Linked DNA regions of Homo sapiens. The protein of the gene in region 5 purifies or fractionates together with the protein of the main gene of each other region. This does not show direct contact. Each region holds a gene or a part of one and is shown on either strand. Other genes may lie near its edges.

Region 1 (3,500 bases), on a different chromosome or scaffold from region 5:
TGGCGCGATCTCTGCTCACTGCAAGCTCCGCCTCCCAGGTTCACGCCATTCTCCTGCCTCAGCCTCCCGAGTAGCTGGGACTACAGTTGTCTGCCACCACACCAGCTAATTTTTTGTATTTTTAATAGAGACTGTGTTTCACCGTGTTAGCCAGTATGGTCTCGATCTCCTGACCTTGTGATCCACCTGTCTCAGTCTCCCAAAGTGCTAGGATTACAGGTGTGAGCCACTGCGCCCGGCTTCCTTTTTATTTCTAAATGCCCCCTGAGGCAGTGTACCATCCCGATTAAGAAGTACTGATTATAGATAAATGATACTAAAAATCTTGAAAAGGGCATCCAGGTGAATATCTAAAGCTTTTGTGCTGATGGATCAGACATGGAATATCTAAGTAAGAAAATAGTTCTAATACACTATGAATTAGGAGACCCTTAGTAATCTTCAAAATACCAACTTTTCTCAGTTTGTTGTTTTTCTTTTTTGTATTTTTTAGAGAAAGGGTCTCACTCTGTTACCCAGGCTAGAGTACAGTGGCAAGATTGTAACTCACTGCAGCCTCAACCTCCTGGGCTCTAGTGAACCTCCTGTCTCAGGCTCCTGAGTAGATAAGACTGCAGGTGCATGCCACCACGCCCAGCTAATTTATTTTTTGTAGTTATAGGGTCTCACTGTGTTGCCCAGGTTAGTCTCAAACTCCTGGCCTCTAGCAGTCCCTCTGCCTTGGCCTTCCAAAGTGCTAGGATTACAGGTGTGAGCCAGCACACCTGGCCCCCTTGATTTTTTTTTTTTTTTTTTTTTTTGAGACAGAGTCTCGCTTTCTCGCCCAGGCTGGAGTGCAGTGGTGCAATCTTGGCTCACTGCAACCTCCACCTCCCGGGTTCAAGCGATTCTCCTGCCTCAGCTTCCCGAGTAGCTGGGATTACAGGCGCACGCCACCACGCCTGGCTAATTGTGTTTTTAGTAGAGACGGGGTTTTGCCATATTGGCCAGGCTGATCTCGAACTCCTCACCTCATGATCCACCCATCTGGGCCTCCCAAAGCACTGGTATTACAGGCGTGAGCCACCGTGCCCAGCCTCCCCCTTGAATTTTTTAAACAAATTTCTTAATTTTCTTGCAATTAGTAGATTAAAGTGGTATGTAATATTTCATCAAATCTAAGCCACTGTTTATTGCATAGTGCACCATTACTTTATTCATTTAAGCCATGGAGACATAAAAATGCTGCCAAACTGACCCACCATTAATTGTAATTAATTGTAATTCCAATTTCAGAGATGTTAAAACTTGTAAAAATGTGCATCTTAGAATTAGGGAGATAGAGTAGCTAGAAAACTATTGTCTCAGTTTTACTAGTAGTGTCAGTATCTTTAAAAAGTTTTACTTGATGTTATTTGATCTCCCCCCCCCCCCCCTTTTTGGATTAGCTTTCTTGTAAACTGGAGCGAGAATTCCGTTGTGTGGAACTTGCTGATCTAATGACTCAAAATGCTGTGAATTTAGCCATTAAATATGCTTCTCGCTCTCGGAAATTAATACTGGCTCAAAAACTAAGTGAACTGGCTGTAGAGAAGGCAGCCGAATTGACAGCAACCCAGGTGGAAGAGGAAGAAGAAGAAGAAGATTTCAGAAAAAAGCTGAATGCTGGGTAAGAAATAATTTAGTTGTTTGAATTTTCCTTTACTGTCTTGAATGTTAAGTTGGTCTTTGCATAGCTCTTTATTGAATAATATTATTTTCTCTTAGTTACAGCAATACTGCTACAGAGTGGAGCCAACCAAGGTTCAGAAATCAAGTTGAAGAAGATGCTGAGGACAGTGGAGAAGCTGATGATGAAGAAAAACCAGAAATACATAAGCCTGGTGAGATACATTTTCAAGCCCATAAATCATGAGAACTATCATGGATGTGGCTTTTCCCATTTTGCTTAACTGAGGGAAATTGAATACTCATACTTTTTTTCAGACCTCTTTGCTATCTGGTTGTTGTATATTGAGGATGACTATATTTTCCCCATTTACATTATATTGCTTTATTTTAATCTGTAGGACAGAACTCGTTTTCCAAAAGTACAAATTCCTCTGATGTTTCAGCTAAGTCAGGTGAGAAATATTTATAAATTTGTAATATCAAGGAAATTTTGCAAGTCATCTGCAAAGTGACACATCTACGCAAATACACCTTAACTCTTAAGGCCACTTTTGGTGTGTGTGTGTTTATGTTTTTGTTTTTTTAATCTCAGATGTTGTTTGTGAAGCTATGGTCATTTAACAGATGTTTATAAAATGCCTATTGAGTGTCAGGCATTTTACTTAATGGTGGATACAGAAGTCAAACAGACATGTGTGGTTGATCTCTGTTTTAATGCTATTTTAGCCCAGCTGAGAAGACAGATGTTGAAGACAGATCTGGGTATCACTGAGGAAGCATGCAGGATACTGGAGAAACAGTTAAAAGGAATTGAAGGCTGGGCGCAGTGGCTCACGCCTGTAATCCCAGCACTTTGGGAGGCCGGAGTGGGCGGATAACGAGGTCAGGAGTTCTAGACTAGCCTGGCCAACACGGTGAAACCCCATCTCTACTAAAAATACAAAAATTAGCTGAGGGTGGTGGTATGTGCCTGTAATCCCAGCTACTCGGGAGGCTGAAGCAGGAGAATCACTTGAACTCAGGAGGTGGAGGTAGCAGTGAGCCGAGATCGTGCCATTGCACTCCAGCCTGGGCAATGGAGTGAGACTCCATCTCAAAAAAAAAAAAAAGGAGTTGAAAATGGTTGCGTACAGGGAGTGGGCCTGGGGGATAAGAGAAGGTTGAAGTAAGGCACTGCTGGCCCTTTTTTGGTGGGGAGCATAAACCTTATAGTACCATTTGACTTTTTAAACTGTGGACATATGTTACTTTGATTTAAAAAAATTAACTTAAAAAACATGTAGAATATGAAAAGAGCGTATGACACATAGCTGTCATCTAGCCAGTGGTGGAGGATGGGTAGGGACTTCAAGGCAGGCCTCATGGAGTGTTTACAGCAGAGACCTGAAGGATGAATAACAGTCAGCAAGGCAAAGGTGCATGGGAACAGGAGCAGAAGAGAAGCATTTGGGCTTAAGGAACAGTATGTGTGAACTGAAGGCTGCAAAAGGGTGGTGTGAAAAGCTCAGAGAGCAAAGAGAAAGTGGTGCTGAAGGGTTTCGGAGTGATGGGCAGGAGCCAAGTCATGCAGATCTGTGTAGGCCATATTAAGGATTTTGGTCTTTTTTTTATTTTATTTTATTTTTTTTAATAGAGATGGGGTGTCACTCTGTTGTCCAGGCTGGTCTCAAACTCAAGCAATTTCCTCACCTCCACATCCCAAAGTTGTTGGACCTGCAGGTGTGAGCCACCACACCCGGTCAGGATTTTGCTCTTTATTCTAAGGTCACTGAGAGACTGTTGTAGGTTTTAAGCAGAGGTATAGCATGGCACACTGTGCTGAAGAAGAACAGATAATAGACTACTGGCCA
Region 2 (2,346 bases), on a different chromosome or scaffold from region 5:
ACCCCTATTATTCTCAGTTCTGCTTTACCCCAATCAAGGCCACAAAAGAACCACCTTTATATACATAAGTTAAAAGGCAGAAAAGGCAATTAAAACACCTCACAGAAATCTAACACTATTTTGTTTTATTTTACTCTTTTGGCTAGGCCAAAACGAATTATTAAAATGTTCCATCTATAAAATTGATTTCTGAACCTCTTAAGATGTTTCTTAAGAACATAACTATACACATACATAGGCCTTTTAAAAGATGATTGGATAAAGGGCGCCAATTACTTGGGTTTTTCTGTTTGTTTAAAATACAGTATTACCTGTTATTTTGCCTGCTATGCTCCTCCTCTCTACTGCAGTAAAAATTCAGTTTAACTTGCAACTCAAAAATCCTAGATACAAAGAATGTTTACATTTACTGTTGAACTTGTAAATTGCCATTTATACTAATTGATTGCTTCGTAGTACCATACAGATACTTAATTCAGCTGATATTTATTGAATCAAGATTTAAAAAAATATAAAACCTCATTGGTTTTAATAGATTTTCTTCCTTTATATTTCAGTTACTACCCAAGTTAAAGCAAAAAGCTAAATCAAAGCTTTAAATTTTTTTTGGTTGAATTTACAACTGGTAGTTTTTTATCTTATAAAAATTGTAATTATAAAATTACAATCTACAGACACATGAGTCACACAACTACAGTTTTCCTTTATGTTAACCTGATGGTCTCCTTTGCTATTTTTAAGGCAGACATTTGGCATTAGAATTGCATACTGGAAACAGACACACACCCTTCATTGTGACAACAAGCAATTTTTTAAAAAAAATGTGTTGCTACAGTAACTGATGCATCTTGTTTTGGTTTGACGCCTAGTCTTCATGATTAGGCTAAAAGGTAATTTTTCTTCATTTCCAAAGTCAAACTTTTATAGTTAACAGTTCTCAGACGGGGATGCACATCAGGATCACCTGCGGTGTTCGTCAAACAACATACCTTGGCCTGGATAAGTCTAAGGTTGGTCCCAGGCCCACAAATTCCTCTTTAATTTTAAACAAGCATTAGGGGTGACTTTTATTATAACCTTCACCCCCTTCCCATTAAGAAACATGCCCTAGTATACAAATTAGTTCAAACCTTTAACTAGGAATACTAAATATACCCTACAGCCTTGGTAATTTGATAACACTTCAATAATACAGTTATAATTGGATGCCTCAAATCATAAACAATGGGTATTGTTATCCATTGTAATGTGGATTGCTATTCAAGTTAAGGAAAAAATATCAGATAATTCACCACTGCCACTCTGCAGAGTAATAGCAGACGCTTCTATAGTGCTTATGCCGGATACTCTTAAGCTATTTACACATTTGAATTCAATCCTTAAAACTGAAACAGATTTTTCCATTCTACAGCTGAGAAAAATGAATCAGAGGAATACACAGGTAATAAATGGGAATACACAGGTAATAAATGGTAATAAACAAACACTAGTCTGGCTCTAGAGTCCTTGCTGTTTTCCAGTATGCTCTGTGGCCTCCCTACATGTTAATTAAAATAGCACTTGTTACCTGTGATTACCACTAAAACTCAACATTTTATTTTCGGGAGGTTAGGACTGTTCTTTCCTTGAAATGGTAACAACAGTCAAACGTCAAGCTTTGGTAAGTTACATGCAACCATTTCTACTTAGGGGCCCATAACTCAATATTTAACATTTCAGTCTGTCACAGTTTCAAAGCTTCAAGTCTCCTTTCTTAATGGGGAAAACTCTACATTAAATTTTCTAACAAAGCTTTTTAAGGTCAAGGTTTATATTTTGTTTCAGAATATAGAGAGCTTAACCACCTTCAACTGTAAAATACTGTGGGTATCATGCTTCTCATTGAGCATCTTCTCAAATTCAGTATCACACTGTGACAGGTAGTCTCCCCAGGAGTCCTGCCTCTTAGTTCAGAGACACAAACATCATCCTGACACTAGGATTTTCCAAAGGGCCACATCTAGATCTTTGACACAAAGGTTGCTGATTTCATTCTAAAGGTCTATTTTCAAAACATTTTTTTTTAAGGTCACTTTTATTCTTTTTCTCTCTCCTACTGCAAAGTCCTCTGGGAAAACTAAGGCCCCCCAGGGTCAAAAGAGGGACAAGACTGTTAACAGTCCTGCCTACACAAACATCAAGTGAATTACTATTCTAATACCACCAAGGTAATCTCAACAACCATTTTCTGGGGTCACACAATGACACCAAATTTCTTCCCAGTGCTTTTTAATTCAAAGGATTCTCTTGCAATCCATCAAGGCTACTCTTGATTATTGATAAGCTCTTAAGATGTTACAATAACAA
Region 3 (3,500 bases), on a different chromosome or scaffold from region 5:
GTAGCTGGGACTACAGGCATGTTCCACACCTGGCTAATTTTTAAATTTTTTTGTAGAGACAGGGTCTTGTTATGTTGCCCAGGCTGGTCTTGAAATCCTGGACTCAAGTGATCTTCCCACCTTGGCCTGCCAAACTGTTGGAATTATAGGCTTGAGCCACTGCACCTGTCCTAAAGCAGGTAATTTTAAGAAGCTCCAAGTATTTGAGTCTTGTGCCTAGACTGAGATGAAGACGAAGGAAAAGGTGGTCCAGTCCTGTCCTGAAAACTGATGAGGAGACAGGTGCAGTGGCTCACGCCTATAATCCCATCACTTTGAGCAGCCAAGGCAGGAGGATGCTTGAGGCCAGGAGTTCAAGTACAGCCTGGGTAACAGAAAGAGACCCCATCTCTACAAAAACAAACAAAAGAAACCCAGAAAGGGCAGTCTATGAATATAACAGATGAAGGAAAGCCACCGCAGGGCCTTTTCGAACTGAGTTCAGCTTGTTCAACATGTTCCCTGAGTTCGTACTCTTTCTGATACACATGTCTGCATAATCTGGGACCGACAGAGCTTAGCGACCAGTGGGGAATGAGACAAGGACACTCTATCATAATTCAGTAAGATGACCTACCTAGAAGCAAGTTTCTGAGGTTTCTCAGTTGCTTGTATATAAGCCTAGCAGTGACAGAACACAAGGTCAGATTGGCTGAGGCATAAAAGATGAGGGGGAAGTAATTCAGGAACAGCTGAAGAGCCATGCAGGGACCACATTCATTTATTCTGTAACAACTACTTATTGAATTGCTAAAGTTAGTAATTAAGATCCCCCCTCTTTTTGTTGAGACGGAATTTCACTCTTGTTGCCCAGGCTGGAGTGCAATGGCGCAATCTCGGCCCACCACAACCTCCGCCTCCTGGGTTCAAGCGATTCTCCTGCCTCAATTAGCTGGGATTACAGGCATGTGCCACCACGCCCGGCTAATTTTGTATTTTTAGTAGACGGGGTTTCTCCATGTTGGTCAGGCTGGTCTCGAACTCCTGACCTCAGGTGATCCACCCGCCTCAGCCTCCCAAAGTGCTGGGATTACAGGTGTGAGCCACTACGCCTAGCCTATGATCCCATTTTAGAAGGTGGATGGCTTCAGTTCTACCATTTACTAACTTGTGGCCTTGGTTAAGTTATTTCATCTTGTTTCTTTATCAAAAAAAGGGGGGCGGGGTAATAATATTTTATACAGCCTATGTTTATTCTAACTGTTAAATGGGCTAGTACATTTAATACACAGTGAGCACACAAGGAATGTGAGCTATCACTGCAAAATGTCAGGCACTGTGCTAGAAATAAGGGGCTGGGACTGAAGTGGTGGGAGGGGACACGGCCTACCTCGGCATGTGAGGGACTCTAATTTACCGCAGGAATTTGAACTTGATGCTGGTGGCAGAGCAGAGTGTCTGACTTATTTTGAATAGAGGAGCAGCCTGCTCAAAACTGTGTTTTGGAAACATTGCTTTGGCTGCAGGATACGAGAGGCTCTTTTTTTTCTTAGTGTTTTTTTGCCTTTTTAAAATTTATATTTTTAAAACGTTTGTTAAATATTTTTCTAAATGCCCATCTCAGAGAAGAAAAGGCTCAAAACTTGAGATTAGATAGCAGACTGAAGCAAAATACACGGTTCGCTTTCTGATATGAAAGTATAATTTCTTTCTCTATTCAGGTGACCACCTTGGGAATTGCCCTTCAAGAAGCGACAGAAGCACCCTCCCTTGAGGAGCTTCCTCATTAACCTCCTCAGTGCTCACAGGGCACAGCTCTGTGTCAGAGGCCCTCATGCCTGTTCATCTCTAAGCATGCACCCACGTCAAGACCATGGAGAGCGGCTGGATGTGGTGGTTCACGCCTGTAATCCCAGCATTTTGGGAGGCCGAGGTGGGCAGATCATGAGGTCAAGAGATCAAGACCATCTTGGCCAACATGGTGAAACTCCGTCTCTACTAAACATACAAAAATTAGCTGGTCATGGTGGCGAGTGCCTGTAATCCCAGCTACTCAGGAGGCTGAGGCAGGAGAATCACTTGAACTAGGGAGTTGGAGGTTGCAGTGAGCCGAGATCATGTCACAGCACTCCAGCCGGGCAACAGCAAGACTCCTTCTCAAAAAAAAAAAAAAAAAAAAGACCATGGAGAGCAGGTATGACTGTTGGTGTTAGTTAGCCTTCCTTATGGCCACCAGCTTCACTATAGGAACTTCCCATAATGCACAGAAACCGGCGCCCTCAACCAACCCATCTACCACCAACAGAGCCATCTGTCCAAAAGGCAAGTGGAGTTGTGTTGTTGTTCCTGCTGAAACACTCCTGTGTCAGTCCCAGGCCTAAAGACCCAAACTCCTGAAGCCTGGCATAATTCAGAGCCTGCCATTTTTATAGCCTGGTGTCTCACACCTCTTTCTGTTGTCCCTAGGCTCTAAGTATCATACTCTTTATGGTTTGCTGAAATGGGTTATTCTGTTCTCCACTTGGAAGGCTGTTTTACCTTTTTGTTTTGCAAATTGAGGACTTGATATTTGACACCAATGTCCTCCCCTCTTGTTCCAGGAGACCAATGATTTTTACACCCCCACCAACTCCTCACCCTGAGCCTTTTTAAAGTTGTGGTATCTTCTGAACAAAGAAAACTATATAAGGAATCTTAAGACTGGATGCAGAGATGTTCTGGTTGAAGCAAGAGTCAAGGCCTAGAGTTCCATACTGCCACATACCAAAAGAACCTCATACTCTGAAAGAACAGACTTTGGCAAACACTGTCACACAGTGACAAGTTAAATTACTGCAACCTGTTTGGAGTGTAGTCTTGGTGGTAGCTATGAAAATTTAAAAATATACCTTTGACTTAGAATCTAACTTTCAAGAAGGAATACAACTACATTCCCACAAGAATGCAAAATTCTATGTGCAAAATGCTCATGCCAGCACGGAAAATGTGCTCCAATGGGGAAGTAGGAGTGGCTAAATTGCACAGGAGATCCATATGTGGGGCTACAAAAAGATCTCCAAGTTACTCCAGTAAATGGAAAAAAGACAAGCCGCATTTATCTGTTCCAGGAAACAACTTTCACAGCCACTAACAGGAAGACGGGCTAAATTAAAGCAGGGTACCCAAACCCCTGCATCAGAATACTAGACAGCCATTACAGTCACTAAATACAAAGCTGCAAAAGTAACGACATGTCCACCAAAGGGAGGCGCTAGGTTAAATCAATTATGGTACAGTCATACAATGACTACAGACAATATAAAAGTACAAAGAAGCTCTCTTGGTAGTACCATAAAAAGATCCCCACCAAGGCCGGGCATGGTGGCTCACGCTTGTAATCTCAGCACTTTGGGAGGCCAAGGAGGGCAGATCACCTGAGGTCGGGAGTTCGAGACCAGCCTGACCAACATGGTGAAACCCTGTCTCTACTAAAACTACAAAATTAGCCGGGCATGCTGGCGCATGCCTGTAATCCCAGCACT
Region 4 (3,500 bases), 4.5 Mb from region 5:
ACTTTAGAAAAAATTAACATTAAAAATGATCAGATACACAGTTCTTTTATAGTGGTATTTTACTCAGTCTTCTAAGTTATGAAATATACAAATAATGATACAATGCAAAAAATAGTTTTCAACATTTGATGAAGCCTTGATATTGACATCAACAAATTTCTAATACAGCCTAACAGCAGTATGCAAAAGCTGTATCACCATATTAAGGATCAACAAACCTTTTCTCTAGGGTGCGGAGCCACAGGGGGGTTGGCGAGTGGAAAGGCAATACTGGGGGCTTGAGGCGTAGGGATCAGGTGGCTGTCTTTTATGGGAGTTTCCAGTTCTTCAGAGATTGGGTGTTTGGGAGCTTCAGTCACACGTATGTTTCCAGGATCACAGACAGCTGAGGACAATAAAATGCTGCAGTGTGACAGGATCCAAATAAGACTAAAAACAAATTCTAGGAAATATTCTCATCTGTCTTAGTCAAGATGAAGTCAAGCACAAACTCTGGAATGTAAAAAGTACAGGCAAAAAAGTATCCTATCCCCAGAACTTATAAATAAATGCATCCCATCTGCATGTGACAATAATAACAATAAAGAAAAAATGCAATTTATTAGCATTAAACAGAGCAAGTGTGTTATCTGTGGGCTTCTCCCAACATTTTCCTTAAATACCAAGTTTTCATTGTTAAGTGTAACCCAAATTTGTAACATGAGAGCAATTCTACACTTGGAGAAAAGCAGAAGCAGAGATAAATCTATATATCTAATGGGAGGTCATCATGCAATGTGAAAAAGAAGAAAAGGAAGAAAAAAGATGAGAGATAGGAAAATTTTGTTTTTAAGGTAAAGCTCAAGGAAGAAAAAAAATAGGAGAATTCAGAAAGAAACTCATACAATCCAAAGAACAAATGTAGGTATGTGCTAGGCAGAATTCAAAAGACTTAAATGAAAATAAGATGATAGGAAGAAAAACCAAGCATTAACTCCACAAACACAAAAAGGGTTAGCTAGAATAAAAGAACAATGGTAGACACCATGTCTAGAAAAAAACGCCCAATTCTAAATTTCCAAATTTATGAAAATGTTTTTCAATTTACTGATGAAGTACCTCAATTTACAAATTATTTTTCTGGCTCAAGTTTAAACCAAAACCAGAAATATCTACGAAGTTTTTTTTGTTTGCACATTCAGATCAGAGAACTACAACATGCTCATCTGTTTATTTTTAAGAGGTCAACATGTACTTAATACAAACAAATGCAAAGATTTCTTTCTTGTTACCCTGTTTAGCAATTTCTGAATCATGTAAAGGCTTTTGAAAAGGAGAATCCTCCAAGTTTTGAATGTCAACCTGAAGCTCAGAGTATTGTGTGGGACAACTAGGCCACTGCAAATTGCTGGCAAGCCTTGCTCTCTCCTCCCTTGCTGTAGGGTCATCCCAAATGATCTGTTCATTTTGGGAAGGCTCTGTGTTGACATCAGGTACTGTCTGACGAGACTGCCTAAGGAATAGAAGTGACAGTTTAAATAAACAGCAATAACAAATCCAAACTCATTAAATCCATAAGTTAGACCATAAAAGTTGTGGCTCACCTTTATATGCCCACCATCTAGCACACAGTATGCATTAAAAATATTAAATAAATGAACCTAGGGACATTTTTTTTTTTTAAAAAGGTTTAAGGTTTCTTCCAGAAAAGTTATCTGTTTTAGCTAGGAACACATATTTTGACTACATGTCTACAGAACTAAAACTTCAAAGGAGAAATTCAACAGTGTCAAGAAATTTTTTAAAAATACTAAAGTAATTGGTACATTTAAAAATGTGATTTTCCTTAATTATACAGGTTAGGGAAACAGGGTAATGTTTCAAACACTATGGTTACTTTACTTAACAGTAGTTATATTTTTTAATTACTTGAAATTATAAGCACTATGATTACATGGGAGGCTTGCTGTAAAGGCTGCCTTATCAGAAGGGCCTTTTGGCTATTGGTAACCACTTTCCAGAGTCTACGGTGGAACAGCAATATGCTGAATTACAGGGAAGTGCATTTTATGGTGCGATTGTAATGATTCCACGTGACAGTAAATAGAAGTCCTATAATTTTCTTTATATTCACTCATTCATTCATTCTTAGTAAAAATAATTTACCATAAAACTTACACTGTGGAGAAGCAAAAAAAAAAAAAACAAAAAACAAAAAACAAAACAAAACACCAAAACCCATAAAACAATTTACCAAAGGAACCCCCAAATAGTTCCTTTGCTTCAAAAATAAAGAATATAGCCTTTTATTCTCACACTATATTTATTTACTCTGATTTGGTACAGGATTTAGGTTCTCTATAATGATAAAACATGATCTGAAGCATATTAAAAAGCTACTTTACTCAGTACTGAGATAATGAACTGCCTCATGTAATACAGTTAGCGTAAGATAAATGCTAGTTTATCTTATACTTAATTCAATTAGTCAACTGAAAATACAAGTCCCATAATTCTTATCACACAATTATAGATTTTTTTCTTCTATCACGAAAAAGATGAAGTTATGCAACTGAGCTTAAGTCACATCACACTAGAAACTGTAATCACCTTTTCTAGAAGATAAATTTTACAAGGAGAATACAAAATGCATGCAAAATCCCAACAAAAATAACTTTAAGATTTTACATATTGCATTAGAAAAAGACTCTGAAAAAATATATATGTACTTATTGTTTAATACAAATACTATTGAATACTAATACTAAAGAGCAGAGAGAACTGCCTACTGAATCCATTTCAAATGAGGCAAATTAGATCTTAAAATCATTTCTTTCTCAACGGAGGTAATAAAAAGTATCAATCATGCCTCACTGTGAAGCAGGTGCTGCTGTAAGACAAATCTCCATGTCTGCTCCACCTCCGAGTAAGAAATCTAGAACTGCTGGGAGCAAGAAATGGAAGGACAAGCTAGAACGAAAAATCTAGTCAGCAGAGAGCCAAAAGCAATAGATAATACTGGAATATAATATTTACTGTTTGGGCTAAATAAGGCCTAGGCATATAACCCCTTCACTAGTCTTGATATTTAAATTTCAGCTTTTACTGCATATTGGGGAAAAAAAGAAAAAAAAGCTAAATTAGGCCAAGCTCATGGAATTGAGTCAGCAGCAGGTACGTAAATCCTTTCTCTCAAGTCATCTAGTCTTTCTGCCATCAGTGACAGGTACACACCTCAGTGCCTCTAGGACTCTACTTCGTCCACTGCGAGCAGAGCGAGTGCTGTCAGGGGTTGAAGATGCGCTGTTACAACCACTTCTTGAAAGGGAAGTCCTCTGCCCTTGGGGTTTCACTATTGATGTTGCAGACATTATCTCCTGTAACTGCTTCTGAAAGTTCTCTCTCATCTCTAAGGTCTGTGTCAGAACTTGAAACAAACACAAATACACCATTCAAGGTAAGTTCCTCTTTTTTACCATATCTTACATTAACTATTTTGTTTAGACCTGGTTGAACACAAA
Region 5 (2,217 bases):
TTAATTTAGCAATCCATCACGCAGCATGAGGGGCAGTTATTTGTGCAGCTTGATCCTTGCTAGTAATTAAAACTATGGGGTGAACTATGCCAAAAATGACCTACATAGTTACTATAGTTACATGAAAATTAAAGCTAAAGTTAAAACACAATATGCTGGCCGGGCACAGTGGCTCACGCCTGTAATCCCAGCACTTTGGGAGGCCGAGGCGGGCAGATCACGAGGTCAGGAGATAGAGACCATCCTGGCTAACACGGTGAAACCCCGTCTCTACTAAACAAAATACAAACAATTAGCCAGGCATGGTTGCGGGAGCCTGTAGTCCCAGCTACTCAGGAGGCTGAGGCAGGAGAATGGCGTGAACCCAGGAGGCGGAGCTTGTAGTGAGCCGATATCTCCCCACTGCACTCCTGAACGACAGAGTGAGATTGCATCTCAAAAAAAAAAAACAAAAAAAACTCAATATGCAAAAGTCAGCAGGGTTATACTAATCTCAGCAAATTAAGATTGTACGTTTACCAATGTTTAGTATTCAGAGTAGTTTATTTCCTGAAATCTTATATACCATCTTCAATTTCAATTTTTATTTGACAGATATTAAAAGCTGATCAGGAAAAATATTTATAATAAATGAAAAGAAAGCATACATCATAATATATACAATGACTTGATTTTATAAAACAAAATATAATATAGCCATATTGTATACATCAAAATGTTTACAGTGATAACAAGTCCTTGGAGGCAAAAATCCTTGTCTTACTCATCTTTATGGTCCCATATTATAGCAGAGTGCTTGGCACAGAGTAGATGTTAAGTAAGTGTTTATTGTAAAAATGGAAGTGAATAATGTATGTCTTCAAAAAAAAAGATACCCAGTCAAGTAAATATATGAAACTTTAATATGTTTGCATCTGAAACATACAAAAGCCTAAAGATAAAGTCAATATCTAACTAAAATTCTCTAATGTATCTTCATTATTATAAAGTTAAGTCTTTAGTCAAAAATTCAGCTCTAAAAATACAGTCTCAAAAAATCACATATCTACATATAATACTAAGACAAGTAAATTGTCGGCCAGGCACAGTGGCTCACGCCTGTAATCCCAGCACTTTAGAAGGCCAAGACAGGTGGATCGCCTGAGGTCAGGAGTTGGAGACCAGCCTGGCCAACACGGTGAAACCCTGTCATTACTAAAAATGCAAAAATTAGCCGGGTGTGGTGGCGGGCACCTGTAGTCCCACCTACTTGGGAGGCTGAGGCAGGAGAATTGCTTGAACCTGGGAGGCGGAGGTTGCGGTGAGCCGAGATCACGCCATTGCACTCCAGTCTAGGTGACAAGAGTGAAACTCCATCTCAAAAAAACAAAACAAACACAAAAACAAAACAAGTAAATCATCTTAAGCTGCATCGTCATCATCATCATCCACTGCAGCGTAAATGGCTTGATTCCTCCTCTTAATTTTCTTTCTTTGTTCAGGTTCATGTTCATCACTCAGCCTCTTCAATGGCACCTTGGTTAAGTCCTCTCCATTCCCTGACTCCACAGTCCCACCAGGTTTCCCCTCTCTATCAATTGTGGAATCCACCGTATCATCAGAAGATACAATCATAGAGCCTGGCAAGATCCTGACATCAGAGAAACTTGCAGAAAACTCAGAAGCTTGATCAGAAGGTTCTACCGATGGTGTATTCATGCCACTATGTGCACTTACAATACTATCTTCATCTTCTTCTTCATCTAACATTATTTCATCTGGATTAATAGAAGACAGAGCAGATGTGTCTGTATTATATTCACTCTGGTCTTCTCCAGAGTCATTACTCTCCACATCATCCTGTTCTTCATATTCACCACACACATGATGTTCTTCCTTGGACTTCTGAAGCCTAACATTGATGTCTATGATGCCAAGTTGGGCACAAAATTCAGTTGTCTGAGGATTGATCCTATGAATCAGCTGCATTTGTGTCTGTGGCTTGCTAGGATCATAACAAGCAGCTGTTACACTAAAGTTACATGGAACCTTGAGATCATGATTCAATTTTTCCAATACTTCTTTCATACCTTCTTCTGTTGCACTATAATCCCACCTATAAAAGTACAAAACAATAGCTTTTTACATTTTATCAGCTCTAAACAATAAATGATGAAATCTAATTACAGACTTCAGGTGCAAGGATAAAAAATAAGCCATCTATCAAAATTCCATTTT
Region 6 (3,500 bases), on a different chromosome or scaffold from region 5:
ACTGAGCATGTTTACTTAAACTTCCTTGGATTCAAAACAAAGCAAAACATATATTAAAGGTGTTCACTGGGCCTGTAAGAAAGGTTCCTTGGGAAATAGTTAATTATCAATTTTATTCCATGGCAATGTTTGCTTTATCACTTTGAATAGAGGATAATACTTACCATAAAATTAAGCACACCTGTTTTGTAATAAATATTGAATGCTTTCTTACCTGGAATGTAATTATCATATGGCCCAAAGTTTACTCTTTGGCTATTAAAACAAAAAAGAAAGGTTTTAGTTAATTTATATAAAAATCACTGTTTTAAACTGTCATTATTTTACTCCAGTACCTGCAACCAACAACTAGAGAAATATTTCACAATCTCAGATATCTTTTGTTATATAAGATTACTTCATCTCCAGGATAATAGAGATGAGCAAATGTGTTTTCAAATTACAACAGTACTAAATAATGGTCGATCAAACAAACTATATATACATACATGTATCACATATATGTGTGTATATTTTCAGATGTGCAATTTGTTTATATGTATTGTGTGTGTATAAGCAAATTGCACATCTGAAAATATACATTTAAAAAAATTACAAAAACACAGTTGAATTATTTTTCCCAGTTCATGCTCCAAATTCTCTCTTAATTGAATTTGAAACAAGGTATCACTTTGTAAACTCTACGCTTATGTAAAAGCATATCCTCAAAATAGTCTCAAAAAACTCCACCAAATCCAAATTATTAAATGGCCTATATGTGCACCTGTGAATTTGTGTGTGCATGTGTATATGTCAGTGTGGACCACAAAAATTCGTAAGGAATTTCATTACTTTTTAAAGAAAATCTGAAAAAGAAACTATATTGCAAATTGTTTTCCATTTGTAGGTTCCCATTTGTTTTATTACTATCTTAACATGTTTGTTCCCACGAAGGAGTGTTTTACGATCTAATTTTTATTTATTGGTGATGGAGACCAATCCTAAGATCTATTAGAGAAATATTATTTTACATTGTTTCATTATATTTTGGATATAGAGCCATCGTTGGTCATGAGTGAGTTTGAGGCTTTTGTGCTCATACACAAACACACACGTGGTGTTTATTTGACAGCGTGTAAAACTTAAGGTTTAAGCATAGAAAAGCAGTATCTTGATACCTTGACTAAAGAATGAAGCTAGCAGCATAAAACGTGGCACATTTTTTCGTGCTATAAAAATTTGTATTAGCTGAATAATATTTAATATGTTTTCACCAATAAGTTATCCAGCCTATCATTTTCTTAAACTGAGTACATGCACCAAAATTACTTGCCCCATCATATCTGAATCTCTAAATTCAGATCCAGTCAAAGTACATTTATATACTACAGAAGAAATGTTGATACCCAACAATGATTATGAACTGCATTATTCCAAATGCTCTCGAAGAGGAAAGATTTTAAGTTCATGAAACACTATTAAACTTGATATTTTCAAAATAGATTTTCAAAATAGAATGATCTGTTAATTTCTTCTATAATTGCTAGGACATATTATTTAATCACCCAGCAATTGAATTTGAAATCAATAATAAAATTATCTAGACAATATATAAATATTTGAAAATTAAACAGCTCCTTTTAAAGAACCAGTGGTCCAAAAGAGATCACAATGAAAACCTATTTAAAAAGAAGCAACTGAACAATAAGATAATTATGAAAATGATAGAATACTGCTTAAAAGTTCATAGAGAATAACTTACAGTTTTAATATTTTATATTATAAAAAATGTTTAAAATCAATGTTTTACATCTCTCCATTGAAACTAGGAAAACAATATAAGAAAAGAAGTAGAGGAGGAGTAAGTATGTTTCAACTCATTTTCAAGGCTAATATAAATAACCCAAATCCTTTTGAGGTCAATTCTAAAAATGCATATTACAGATGAATATCCCACATTATTATAGACACATAATTTCTTAAAATTTAAAAAATCATACTGACAAACATATAAAATTGCTAATACATCATGATCATCTGGTTTACTTTCCAGAATATGAGGTTGGTTTGACCTAAAATCAACCAATGCAATCATTCCAATTGACAAAATAAATAAGAAAAATCATCTGATCATTTCAGTATATGCAGAATAATTTTTGAAAGAAAGTAATATGCATTCGTAATTAAAAAGTCAGAGAAAACCAGCAATAGAGAACATAGCCCACAGATTGATAGAATACATCTAGATAATGCCTGTTTTTAAAATTAAACTTATTGGAGGAATATTGACTGTCTTTCCTTAAAAATCAGAAACAAGGCAAAGATAAACCTACTGTATCTATTCAGCATTTAAATCCAGATCCTATTTTGTTTCATAAAGCAATAAAAGCACTAAGATTGAAAAGGAAGAAGTAAAATTGTCTTTATTTGTAGAGGATACAGTTGGGTAAATATGATATCCAGTGACATCTATAATAATAACTGTTAAAGCTGCCAATCAAATGTAATAAGTTTATATGATACAGAGTTTAATGAATTATACTAGTTTAATGATTATATGATAAATAGTTTAAATGAAGTATATTTCTATATACCAGCAAAATTAGAAGATAAAAATTTAGGAAAATTAATTAAAACTTGAAATAACACAAAAGCAAATTATACAGAAACAAGTTATTAAAATACATATAAAAGCTGCATAAGTGAATTAAAACTTTTCCTCTAGGAAATAAAGAAAAGGAAGAAAACAAAAGTCCACAGAAAGACTTAGACAAAAATGTTCATAGCAATTTTATTCACAATAACCTCAAACTAAAAGCAACTCAAGTGTCCATCAACAAAGGAATGGATAAACTAAGTGTGCTATGTAAATGTAATGGAATACTTCTTAGCAATCGAAAGGAATAAATTACTTATATGTGCAATATAGAAACTTTAATGAATACAAAGGAATATTATATTGAAAGAAAAAGTCCAGAAATACTAGCACATACACAATATAATTTTATTGTATTCACTTCAAAAATAAGGAAGACTCTATAGGGTAACTGAACAGTCATTGGTTGGAGAAAAGCAAGTTGGATTGACTGGAATCTGTCATAATGTATCTTTTTTGTGTGATCAAAGTTTTCTATGTATTTCTTAGTGTTTATGAGATTAGAGTTAGTGACAGTTCAATACATTTTAACCTCTTGCATTTTTAGTAAGAATCATTTATAGGAACCCAAACAGCAATAAACCAAATACCCTTGCCCCTACTGACTATGCAAATGTGTGTGATAAGCAATTAAAGCAATTTGATCTTTTGGATTTGATAGCACTTTCCCACTCTTTAAGTCTGGCTTTGCTGGTGAGAGCATCTCTTTCCTTTCCTCTCTGGTACAGTCAAGTAATTATCTAGGTCAGGGTGCATTTGCATTCAATTTTTGACATTCTTATTAAAGAAACTTACAAACTGTCTTATTGAAAATAAACTTAGTATATCCCTTATTTTTATTTTGAGATATATTTATATGAATGTA
Region 7 (3,500 bases), on a different chromosome or scaffold from region 5:
TGCCTGTAATCCCAACACTTTGGCAGGCCAAGGTAGGCAGATAACAAGGTCAGGAGTTCAAGACCAGCCTGGCTAACATGGTGAAACCCCATCTCTACTAAAAATACAAAAAGTAGCTGGGCATGGTGGCTCATGCCTATAATCCCAGCTACTCAGAAGGCTGAGACAGAAGAACTGCTTGAATCCAGAAGGCAGAGGTTGCAGTAAGCCAAGATCGTGCCTCTGCACCCCAGCCTGGGCAACAGAGCGTGAAACTCAGTCTCAAAAATAAATAAAATTAAAAAATAAAATATCAAGTGTGGGCCAAGTGTGGTGGCTCACGCCTGTAATCCCAGCACTTTGGGAGGTTGAGGCAGATGAATCACTTGAGGTCAGGAGTTTTACACCACCCTGGCCAACATGGTGAAACCCTGTCTCTACTGAAAATACAAAAATTAGCCGGGTGTAGTGGTGCACACCTGTAATCCCAGCTACTCAGGCAGCTGAGGCAGGAGAATTGCTTGAACCTGGGAGGCAGAGGTTGCAATGAGCTGGGATAGTGCCACTGCACTCCAGCCTGGGTGACAGAGTGAGACTCTGTCTCAAAAAAAAAAAAAATTATGAATGAATGAGAACACTAAAACAAGAACAATGAATGTCAATACCTATTTTCCTGCCCATGAGTCTTACGGGTCCCATGTTCATACACTTCCAAAGACAAGAAGTGTCAAAAGTCTCCATTTAAACAAAAATCATTTTGTTACTGCTTTAAGTGCTGATTCCATGGGAACAAGTTAGAAAATTCTCAGTAGTGTCTCTCACCTCTGCATTCAGTCATCCTATTGTTTTGTTTTTTGGTAAGAAACAGGGTCTTGCCCTGTTGTCAAGGCTGGAGTGCCGTGGCCATGATAACTCACTGCAGTCTCAAACTCCTGGGCTTAAGTGATCCTCCTGCCTTAGCCTCCTGAGTAGCTAGGACTACAGGCTCACACCATCACACCCAACTAATTTTTTTTATGGTTTTTGGGGAAGAGGGGTCTCACTACGTTGCCCAGGCTTGAACTCATCCTTTTTTTTTTTTTTTTAAAGCAAAAGGCCACAAAAAAGCAGACACAAAATCACATAATCCATTCCCAGTAAAGATATTCTCTCTTCAGTCCATTCTCTGCATGTATGAGTCTATCTCAAAAAGGAGGGAAGGAGCCAGGCGCGGTGGTTCACAGTGGCAATCCCAGCACTTTAGGAGGCCAAGGCGGGCGGATCACCTGAGGTCAGGAGTTCAAGACCAGCCTGACCAACATGCAGAAACCCCAACTCCACTAAAAATACAAAATTAGCCAGGCGTGGTGGCGCATGCCTGTAATCCCAGCTACTTGAGAGGCTGAGGCAGGAGAACTGTTTGAACCCAGGAGGCGAAGGTTGCAGTGAGCCGAGATGGCACCATTGCACTCTAGCCTGGGCAACAAGAGAAACTCCATCTCAAAAAAAAAGAAAAGAAAAGAAAAGAAAAGAAAAAGAAAAGGAAGGAAGACAATGCCTCTTCGTTTTTATGTGTAATCTCCCTCTACTGAATGATGCTAAATGAGCTCTCACTTTGAGAATAACAGTGATAACATAAAAGACCCACAGAATCACTAAGAACTAAATTCCTAAAGGTTCTTTAAACTCGTATGTCTACTTTTCAGAAGTTTCTTTTTTTTTTCTTTTTTCTTTTTTGAGAGGTAGTCTCACTCTACTGCCCAGGCTGGAGTACAGAGGCACGATCCCAGCTCACTGCAACCTCCATCTCCCGGGTTCAAGCAATTCTTCTGCATCAGCCTCCCCAGTAGCTGGGATTACAGGCACCCACCACCACACCCAGATAATTTTTGTATTTTTAGTACAGACAGGGTTTCATCATGTTGGCGAGGCTGGTCCCACACTCCTGACCTCAAGTGATCCATCTGCCTCGGCCTCCCAAAGTGCTGGGACTATAGATGTGAGCCACCACACCTGGCCCTTTTTTAAAAGTTACAGCAAATCATGCCTGTTTTAAAAGAATCAGAAGTTGCAGAAAAACCCTAACATACCCAGTTATAACCTCTCTCTCCAGATCATTTTGTATCCAGATTTTTATTTTAAAAAATCACTGGGCTGGGGCACAGTGGCTCACCCCTGTAAGTCCCAACACTTTGGCAGGATCCACAAGGCAGGAGGATCACTTGAGCCCAGGAGTTCCAGACCAGACTGGGCAACACAGTGAGACCTTGTCTCTGTAAAAAATTTAATTAGCCCAGTGTGGTAACGCATGTCTGTGGTCCTAGCTACTCAGGAGGCTGAGGCAAGAGGATCACTTGAGCCCAAGAGATTGAGGCTGCAGTGAACTGTGACTGTGCCACTACACCCCAGCCTAGGCGATTGAGACTCTGTCTCCAAAAAGAATTTAAATTTAAAAGTCACTGATTTTAAAATAAATTATTCAATAGGTTCACAGGGCTTATTCTGGATAGAGTCAACAGGATGTTCTGGCTGAAAAAGTGAAATTGAAACAGAGTAGAAAGTGAGGAGCTAGCTATGTAAAATTCTAAGGAGAGCATTCTAGAGCATGGGCAAAGGCATCAGACGGGTCTTGGTTAAAGAATGGAGAGGTGTGTCACAGGCAGCCCAAAGGAGAGAGTGATGGGCGATAAGATGACAGATTTCTTGATTAGCATCTGAAACCGGTCCAAATCTATCTAAAATTAGCCCTTCTTTAGGTTGTTTTTAAAGAATCCCTAAAACAGCAGACTAGCTCCACACTAGAAATTCAAATAAAAGCAAAGGAAAAAGTCAGAAGGTATTCAAAATATGTCCTATCAATATAAAGATTAAATTTTTGATGCCTTGCTGAGAATTCCTGCAAGCAAGAGATCATAGCACCTCACACATTCCTAAAACATTCTATCTACATACCCACCTAAGTTTCCACAGAGGTGCTCAGAATTTACTTTACTCTCTCTGGTGATGGATAATTTCCATGCTTTCAAATCACTTTTGCTGTAAATACCCTGAGGCACTTACTTTGGTATAAAAGACTCTTGGTCTCCGCATTAAAGACACAAACAGGCCGGCACGGTGGCTCATGCCTGTAATCCCAGCACTTTGGGAGGCTGAGGCGGGCAGATCACGAGGTCAGGAGATTGAGACTATCCTGGCTAAAATGGTGAAACCCCGTCTCTACCAAAAATACAAAAAAATTAGCCAGGCGTGGTGGCACGTGCTTGTAATCCCAGCTACTCAAGAGGCTGAGGCAGAATCGCTTGAACCCGGGAGGCGGAGGCTGCAGTGAGTCAAGATTGTGCCACTGCACTCCAGCCTGGGTGACAGAGCAAGACTCCGTCTCAAAAAAAAAAAAAAAAAAAAAAAAGGCGCAAACAAAGCACTCACAGAAAACTAAACACAGAATTCACTCTACATATTGGCCAAAGGGAGACAATTTCTGGATACTGAGCAACACACAATTTATGATCTTATGTGAAAACTGATGGCCGGGTGTGGTGGCT

The links.
Region 1: the proteins of DBR1 (region 5) and WDHD1 purify together in Homo sapiens (affinity purification with mass spectrometry, with the first as the bait; one large-scale study listed by BioGRID). This does not show direct contact.
Region 2: the proteins of DBR1 (region 5) and SMNDC1 purify together in Homo sapiens (affinity purification with mass spectrometry, with the first as the bait; one large-scale study listed by BioGRID). This does not show direct contact.
Region 3: the proteins of DBR1 (region 5) and HNRNPUL1 purify together in Homo sapiens (affinity purification with mass spectrometry, with the first as the bait; one large-scale study listed by BioGRID). This does not show direct contact.
Region 4: the proteins of DBR1 (region 5) and TOPBP1 purify together in Homo sapiens (affinity purification with mass spectrometry, with the first as the bait; one large-scale study listed by BioGRID). This does not show direct contact.
Region 6: the proteins of DBR1 (region 5) and CYLC2 purify together in Homo sapiens (affinity purification with mass spectrometry, with the first as the bait; one large-scale study listed by BioGRID). This does not show direct contact.
Region 7: the proteins of DBR1 (region 5) and SPAG9 purify together in Homo sapiens (affinity purification with mass spectrometry, with the first as the bait; one large-scale study listed by BioGRID). This does not show direct contact.

What each region holds. Positions count from the first base shown.
Region 1 is NC_000014.9:54,961,100-54,964,599, reverse strand, and holds part of WDHD1 (WD repeat and HMG-box DNA-binding protein 1), read left to right. Parts: intron 1-1,427; coding exon 1,428-1,648; intron 1,649-1,746; coding exon 1,747-1,862; intron 1,863-2,048; coding exon 2,049-2,102; intron 2,103-3,500. UniProt on the Homo sapiens protein: Core replisome component that acts as a replication initiation factor. Binds directly to the CMG complex and functions as a hub to recruit additional proteins to the replication fork.
Region 2 is NC_000010.11:110,290,230-110,292,575, forward strand, and holds the end of SMNDC1 (survival of motor neuron-related-splicing factor 30), read right to left. Parts: 3' UTR 501-2,346; downstream 1-500. UniProt on the Homo sapiens protein: Involved in spliceosome assembly.
Region 3 is NC_000019.10:41,288,372-41,291,871, reverse strand, and holds part of HNRNPUL1 (heterogeneous nuclear ribonucleoprotein U-like protein 1), read right to left. Parts: intron 1-3,500.
Region 4 is NC_000003.12:133,616,942-133,620,441, forward strand, and holds part of TOPBP1 (DNA topoisomerase 2-binding protein 1), read right to left. Parts: intron 3,407-3,500; coding exon 3,214-3,406; intron 1,493-3,213; coding exon 1,272-1,492; intron 386-1,271; coding exon 219-385; intron 1-218. UniProt on the Homo sapiens protein: Scaffold protein that acts as a key protein-protein adapter in DNA replication and DNA repair. Composed of multiple BRCT domains, which specifically recognize and bind phosphorylated proteins, bringing proteins together into functional combinations.
Region 5 is NC_000003.12:138,160,488-138,162,704, forward strand, and holds the end of DBR1 (lariat debranching enzyme), read right to left. Parts: intron 2,096-2,217; coding exon 1,402-2,095; 3' UTR 501-1,401; downstream 1-500. UniProt on the Homo sapiens protein: Cleaves the 2'-5' phosphodiester linkage at the branch point of excised lariat intron RNA and converts them into linear molecules that can be subsequently degraded, thereby facilitating ribonucleotide turnover.
Region 6 is NC_000009.12:102,998,333-103,001,832, reverse strand, and holds part of CYLC2 (cylicin-2), read right to left. Parts: intron 256-3,500; coding exon 215-255; intron 1-214. UniProt on the Homo sapiens protein: Plays a role in the establishment of normal sperm morphology during spermatogenesis. It is required for acrosome attachment to the nuclear envelope, and proper manchette elongation and disassembly.
Region 7 is NC_000017.11:51,114,369-51,117,868, forward strand, and holds part of SPAG9 (C-Jun-amino-terminal kinase-interacting protein 4), read right to left. Parts: intron 1-3,500. UniProt on the Homo sapiens protein: The JNK-interacting protein (JIP) group of scaffold proteins selectively mediates JNK signaling by aggregating specific components of the MAPK cascade to form a functional JNK signaling module.